Homo sapiens: one gene and its partner. The protein of the gene in region 2 purifies or fractionates together with the protein of the main gene of each other region. This does not show direct contact. Each region holds a gene or a part of one and is shown on either strand. Other genes may lie near its edges. The genes, in order: IVNS1ABP and PRPSAP1.

Region 1 (3,912 bases), on a different chromosome or scaffold from region 2:
TTAACCATCAGGTTCCCTGAAAGGCATAAATGGAATGCATAAGTTATGCTATTATTCATAGAGAAGGTAATAAGTAAATTTGAAATTCCATACAAAGCAAAAATACAATGAGTGTGGGCACACTGTAGCTTTAAGAAAAGTGTTGACTGTTTCAGGTCACAAAGACACTATTTAGAGTATAGCAAGTGTGACCATGTGTCCAACAGGCCAGCAGTCATGTGTCTACGCAGAGTGGGCAATTCATACTCTCCCACTGGAAGGATGAAACCCATTGTATTAAAGAGCTTAAAAGTACGTACCCTGATAGTTTCATTTGTAAGAAAAGTAAACATTGCTGTCAGTTATTATCAGCAAGACAAAACAAGAGCACAGTGTCAAATGTCAGTCTTTTTCTCCTTAAGAAAGATATAAAAAATCACTCGAATAGACATCTTAGTTCTTGTTTCCTCCTACAATTAATTGTCCGGGGGCGGGGGGACGGGGTGCGGGCGGGGCGAGGGAGACATACAAGAAATCTGTGAGAAAAAAAGGGGCGGGGGAATAAGTCTCCTTGCCTCAAGATTTTAGAAAAAAAGTTGTAAACCTATTGCAGATGAAGGCTCCCACAATTTATTTTTCCTGCTTCTATAAGCATAAATAGTTAATGATAAAAATGGTAAGAGGCATTGACAAAGAGCTCCTAGAATGTCTACAAATTAAGGTGAGTGATCAAACACAAGGTTAGGCCTAGACAGCTTAAGTGTCCTCCACAAATCAGGATAAGCGTTAACAGGACATTAACCTGGAAGCCTTTACCAAACTCTAATTTGGATATAATTTTACCTCACTAAATCCCTCACCTTCAATCAAAACTCCTTTCCCACGTGCCCTTCAGAGTCCACGAAGTTGCTGCCAGATCCCAGCTTAAATCACGTTTCGCTTTCACAGATCTCCCTCCCGGGCAAGGTGGTGGGGTGGATAATGAAGTTTGGCACCTGGTATAAAGGGCCCCAGTAGGTTAGGATAGGAACTACCACTTCTCAGGTGTGTTTTCTTTTTCCGGAAGAGGGCAAGACCAGTAGAGAACTGACTCAGCGTCTCCGACACGAGGAGAGCTGCACGCAGACAAAACAGACCCGGGGGGTGAAAAGTGGAAGTAAACTGGTGTTTGTGGCACCACTGATTTACACCTTCTCTGACTTCTCCAATATTTTTTTCCCCAAGTGACTCAATCTTCTCACCCAAACCAGGCCAAATGAGGGGTTAGTTGTTCGACTTCTTCTCAGAGTGCCTCTCTTCTTCCTCACACTCTCCACGCCTCCTCTCCGCACCCGCCACTTCCCCCCCGACCCTTAAGTTAAGGGCTCATGCCCAACTAGATCCTAATGTCCACGACGAGCAGCTCCAGTCTAGGGGGGGTTGCCTAGAAGTAGGTCTGACGCCGAGCAATCTAATCTCCCACGTCTGATCTCTCAGGCTATTGTGCCTCGAGGGGAAGTCAGAACAGGTGAGGGCGGCTTGAGGGAACCAGTTCCGGGACAGGCAACGCACAGGGCGGCGAAAGTGAGGGTGCGGGGCAAGGAACGGAGGGAGGGACAAAGGCGCGATAAGAGGAACGAGGGCGCCCCCCGAGCGCCGCCTATCTCCTCAGGATCACCTTGCGCTGACCTAGTTACACCGAGAAGGAAGGAACCCCAGTAGACCAGGGAGGAAGGCGGGGCGGGATGTGGGCGGGGCCGCGGGTGGGGCGGGGCTTAGAGTGGGATCTTTATGGAGCTCGCCTGTGATTTGCAGATGGATTCGAGACGGAAGCGGGCTGGGAGGCGTCGGCGGCGGCAGCGCACGTGGTGACGTGCGAGGGGGTGCGGCGCGAGCGGTCGGCGGCGGCGGAGGCAGTGTCTCCCGGTCGCGCGTGGAGGTCGGTCGCTCAGAGCTGCTGGGCGCAGTTTCTCCGCCTGCTGCTTCGGCGCGGCTGTATCGGCGAGCGAGCGAGTTCCCGCGAGTTCTCGGTGGCGCTCCCCCTTCCTTTCAGTCTCCACGGACTGGCCCCTCGTCCTTCTACTTGACCGCTCCCGTCTTCCGCCGCCTTCTGGCGCTTTCCGTTGGGCCGATTCCCGCCCGCTTCCTCCTGCTTCCCATCGAAGCTCTAGAAATGAATGTTTCCATCTCTTCAGAGATGAACCAGGTAATACGCGCTGGTTCTACGAACGACAGATGAGGGAGACGGCGCGGCTAGAATCCGAGAAGAAGGGATGGCGCCGGCGGATGGGAAGAGGGTGGGAGGCGCGGAAGCGGTGTCCTCATCAGGGGAGGCAGCCCCAAGCGGCCGCCGCCGCCCTCTGGGACGTGAAGCCCGCGCCGCGCTGGGCCCGCGCTCCAGCGCTGCCATGGTTGCCAAGTTGCGTTGGCGGCCGAGAGCGGGCGCCGGTCGCCTCGGAGAGCGCGGAGGCTGGAGCCCCTTTGCTACACTGGCGCGGGTGAGGCAGGCTGGGAGGAACAAGAGTTTTTTGTTCGAAGGGTTTTGGGGGGCCTGGGTTAGGGCGCCGCGGGCGGGGATGACCCGCCGGAAGGAGGGCGCGGGACTCCCCGTTCTTGCTGTCAGGAACGGACGCCTCGCCTCGGGTTTGCCTGGGGTTTGGGATTCTCTTCTGGAAGAGCTCTCGAGACTCGGCTCGTGTGGGCGGGCAGCCAGCCCCGGGCCTGGAGTAGGGTGGCACGGAGTCCCCGATCGCCGTGGGCCGCGGGGTCCTTTGTTCCCGCTCCACGTTGCCCGCTTTTCTTGCCAAGCGCGGGGAGAAGGGGGCGGGAGGAGGGAGGGAGCGGCTGCCCTGACGTGTCGGTACTGAGTGACTGCGGGGCTGGCCAATCCGGGGCGGGGGTGTGCGGGTGCTGGGGGCCTCGCCTCGCAGCCTGCGGAGTGGGCGCCGGCCTGGCTGCGCGAGGAGGAAGGCCTGGGACGCTCTTTCTTTTTTATGAAAGAAATCAGTGGCAAGATTTGCTCTTTTTCCGTCCCTCCACGCTTTTGGTTAAGTGTCTCTGATTATAAGCTCTTGATGATAGGAAGGTATCAGGCTGAGGGTTGAACCTAGGGTAACTTGAACCACTACTTGAGAACTACATTTACTTTTTCCCCCAATAGGTAGTGGACATATCTATTGGTTTGAGACAGCTGACATTTCAAGGAGAAATCAGATGTCCAAAAGGGCGCATTTTTGTGATGGAGCGTGCAGTGATGGAGCGTTAGAACACCTTGGCATCAAGCTGTTCGTTGAGTGTGTCGTGGTCTTCTGTCTACTAATAGATGACAACTCTGGAAGCCTAGTACCACTCTTAACAGATGAATAAGTACAGCATGGACTAGACTGCCACAGGCCATGCTTTCTTTTAATAATTCTAGCACCAGTGATTGATTTAGGAAAAACAAAATACTGATGATTACTTTTAGGCTAAAGCCTGCTGACACTTCTGTCTTAAAGATACTGAAAGAGTAGTTGTATTTGTTAAGTCTGGACGTGAGGTAAACATGGACTTTAGAATTGAATTGAGACTAGTATCATTTAACGCCAGCTGGCAGGCTGCTTATCAAGCTTATAATTTGGTAGCCAGAGGTAAACGGAACTTGAGCCACTGACCAAAGAGAGCCCTGGAATGGTTTTCCTCTGTGTTTTCCTAATAGATGATATCTCTGGTTAACTAATAGATACTAATTTCTATAGCCATTGTCTTAATTTGTAGTTGATTTTCTAACTTTCCCCCCAAGACAAAACATTTCAGGTTTTAGTCTTAGTTTTAAATTAGTGTCTTTTTGGCTACTTGCTTTTGGAAGGTGGGATTTTTTCTTGCTTGAAGGATTTGTTAGATGGTAATTAAATGTAGTTTTGCAAATACGTTTTTAAATATAAATGTTTTCCTGTTAAGGAAGTATCTTAATTG
Region 2 (3,912 bases):
GCGCGTGTAATCCCAGTTACTTGGGAGACTGAGACAGGAGAATCGTTTGAACCCGGGAGGCAGAGGTTGCAGTGAGCCGAGATTGCCACACTGCACTCCCAGCCTAGGCAACAGAGCAAGATTCCATCTCAAAAAAAAAAAAAAGCATTTAATACGCCTAACCTACTAAACATCATTAACTTGGCCTAGCCCTACCTTAAACATGCCCAGAACAGTTACATTAGACTGCAGGTGGCAAAATCATCTAGGGCAAAGGCTTTCATTTTATAATAAAAGCGATTATTTTAAAATAAAGTGTCTCAAGTAATTTATCGAATACTATACATTACATCGTAATTGCAATGGTTTTGCATCATCATAAAGTCAAAAACTTCTAAGTTGAACCATGGTAAGTCGTGGACTATCTGTATTCCTAAACATGTATCTGTCCCAACGAACTGCTAGCCAGCAAAAGCTAGAAAAGCTATAGACAGATTAAGCAATTTAGTATTGACTGAATCATTTTATTATTCCCAGAAAACACAGCAGTAAATCTTGGCTCAAGATTTAGAAGCAGCCTGACCTCGTCTACGGAGGACTCCTCAATCAGGCGAGGGGCCTCTGCAGACAGGATGCCGTGGGTGGCCATAACATAGATCTTATAGGCGCCTCTCTCTTTCAGGATCTCCGCGGCAGCAACAAAACTCTCCACATCGTCAATAATGTCATCCTGGGAGGAGAACAGAGTGAGTTGGTAGGAAAGAAACACCCTCTAGCCCATACTGTCAATGCACACACCACTCTACTCTCTTCTGCACTCAGTTTCAGAGGATTTCTGATGGAAAATCAGAGCTGTGTGCCTGGGTCAAAGAACGAGCATCCAGAAATGGCAACAGAAGCACCTGACAGTACCTTGTGTGTCTGTCAGAGGCGGGCGCAGTCAAGCACCTGTGACATTACGGCTGGAGCTGAGGATTGCCAACACTCATTTTCCTGTCTCACGTTTCTGGTGAATCCCACATAGCCAGCGTTCCATTTATTTTTTTTTCAAATAGACTGTGACATGAGAAGAAAACTGAAATAAAGTGTGCTACTGCAAAGGACTCATGACCCACTAGCCAGCAGATATTTAGAGCTGGGAAAAAAAGTATGTCAACATGCAGAACGAGTCTGCACGGGGACACCCATTCTTACTTGTGAAAACGGAACAGCTCATCTTCAGTTCATCTTTCGGCCCTAACGCTCAAGCATGATTAGGTGAGCTGGTTTAAAGAACCTAGAATCCACATGATGAAGGTGAAGGTGCTGAATTTTCTCACGGGAGTACTGTGCTCATTTCCTATCTGTAGGTTATACTTTAATGTATGTTCACCTGGATACAGGTTTCTGCCACTTGGCACAAGGGAGTTTGGGTGAGAAAGGATACATGGATCCATTCGGATCATCGTTCCTAGAAATACAGTCCCAGAGTGGACAACCTACTGACCAAGAGCCAGGAGTGCCACCTCTGCACATGGATGACATATAACCATACCACGATGATTGCGATGCGGCCTCCAACATCTCCAACTACAGTTATCGGTGGCTTCTCTTTGGCCATCATCACTAGCAAAACAAAACAAATTACAAGATCTCAGTCATTCATGTATCACTAGAGAAATGTAATCACAACCTAATTCCCTGGAAATGGTGGCAAAACCACTATACAGACAAAAAACAAACAAACCATGCAAATTCCCCCTCAATGAACCTGCAATCTCTCAGAAACAGCAGCATTGGCCAAAAGAAATAGAAGGCATGCCATACATGTTACTTTGAATTTTCTAGTAGCCACATTAAAAACAGATGAAATTAATACATTTTATTTTATGCAATTCCCAAAATATTATAATTTCAACATGTAACTGATATAAAAATGTATGTATGTATGTATGTATGTATGTATTTTTTGAGACGGAGTTTTGCTCTTGTTGCCCAGGCTGGAGTGCAATGACGCGATCTTGGCTCACTGCAACCTCCGCCTCCCAGGTTCAAGCAATTCTGCCTCAGCCTCCCGAGTAGCTGGGATTATAGGCATGCGCCACCACACCCAGCTGAGTTTTGTATTTTTAGTAGAGATGGGGTTTCTCCACGTTGGTCAGGCTGGTCTCGAACTCCTGACCTCAGGTGATCCACCCGCCTCAGCCTCCCAAAGTGCTGGGATTACAAGCTTGAGCCACCACGCCCAACCTGATATAAAAATTAATGAGATGTTTTACACTTTTTTTTCTCAGAGGGGATCTTGCTATGTTGCCCCGGCTCATTTCAAACTGGAAGCAAACAATCCTCCTACCTCAGCCTCCCAAAGTGCTAGGATTATAGGCATGAGCCACCGCACCCAGCCTTACACTTTTTTCCTATCAAGTCTTCTCTACTTGGTGTGTGTTTTATACGCACAGCACTTCTCAGTTGAGACGGGCCGTGTCTCATGAGCTCAGCAGCCAGCACATTGCACTGCACAGCACAGCTGGAAAGACAACGAACCAGCAGAGCATGGAAGATTCTGCCAACACGGAGAAGCTGCACCGCAGTGCTGTGTGGATAGAAACCCCACTCTCACAGAGACTGACAGAGACATGCAGAAGGAATGCCGCTCTGCAGAAAGCGAAACAGCGAAAGGCTGCCAGATCATGAGATGGCTTTATGTTATTTTCTTCCAAAGTCACCTTATTTGGACAGTGTAACCTTACTATCAGATAACTGCACTACTGACATAATCAGAGTTTCCTCAAAATCAGGAACTTGAAGACAATAACTCCAGGCCCATCATCTTTTCCTGATTTAATTGGTGCTTAAAGTAGAGACTTTTATCTGACTGCAAAATCTGCATCTGAAGAAAGGCTATGAGTGTACAAAGGAAACTACAGGATAAAGAAAGGAAATAAGATTTTATCCTCAAAAGGAGGTTAGTAAACAGAGAAGAAAAACAAAGACTACTTCAGAAGAACAGGCTAAGTATTCTTTCTTTAAACTTTGTTATTATTCTGAAATATTTATTAGGCTAGTAGTGGGGGAAGCGAAAGAGAATAAAATTCAGGGTAACAAGAGTTTAGTGACTACCAACAAACAATTTTTGCAGATTCCCAACAGGCACTGTGTATCTCAAAGAACAGGTGTTTTTCTCTGTATACTGGCAAATCAGTTGAGCTGAAATTCACCACTACTTTATACATTTCAACAAACATATATTTCCTGATTTCACATCCTAGAAACAAAGACAACTTCTTGAATTTGGGCAAGACAAGAAGGCTTTGCATATAAAATCACTTAAAATGGGGGGAGGGGGGTTTCAAACCACCAACATTAGGAGCAGCTTCCTGAGATTCTGTTTTTAAATTAAACCATGTAAACACGCAGTTATGTTGACCTATCCGCTTTTTTTTTTTTTTTTTTTTTTTTTTTTTCTTGAGACAGAGTCTCACTCTGTCTCCCAGGCTGGAGTGCAGTGGCACGATCTCGGCTCACTGCAACCTCTGCCTCCTGGGCTCAAGCGATTCTCCTGCTTCAGCCTCCTAAGTAGCTGGGATTACAGGCACGTGCCACCACATCTGGCTAATTTTTTGTATTTTTAGCAGAGGTGGGGTTTCACCACGTTGGCCAGGCCACCTTTGAGAGGCCAAGGCAGGCGGATCACCTGAGGTCAGGAGTTCAAGACCAGCCTGGCCAACATGGTGAAACTCTGTCTCTACTAAAAATATAAAAATTAGCCAGGCATGGTGGCACACGCCTGTAATCCTAGCTACTCAGGAGACTGAAACAAGACTTGCTTGAACCCAGGAGGCAAAGGTTGCAGTGAATTGAGATCGCACCACTGCACACCAGCCTGGGCAACAGAGTGAGACTCCGTCTAAAAAAAAAAAAAAAAAGAAAAAAAAAAAGAAAGATTGCAAGCCA

What was found.
Region 1: the proteins of PRPSAP1 (region 2) and IVNS1ABP purify together in Homo sapiens (affinity purification with mass spectrometry; 3 studies listed by BioGRID and IntAct, with this or other methods). This does not show direct contact.

What each region holds. Positions count from the first base shown.
Region 1 is NC_000001.11:185,315,205-185,319,116, reverse strand, and holds the start of IVNS1ABP (influenza virus NS1A-binding protein), read left to right. Parts: upstream 1-1,873; 5' UTR 1,874-2,164; exon of another isoform or gene 2,165-3,912. UniProt on the Homo sapiens protein: Involved in many cell functions, including pre-mRNA splicing, the aryl hydrocarbon receptor (AHR) pathway, F-actin organization and protein ubiquitination.
Region 2 is NC_000017.11:76,312,308-76,316,219, forward strand, and holds part of PRPSAP1 (phosphoribosyl pyrophosphate synthase-associated protein 1), read right to left. Parts: intron 1,585-3,912; coding exon 1,514-1,584; intron 710-1,513; coding exon 563-709; intron 1-562. UniProt on the Homo sapiens protein: Seems to play a negative regulatory role in 5-phosphoribose 1-diphosphate synthesis.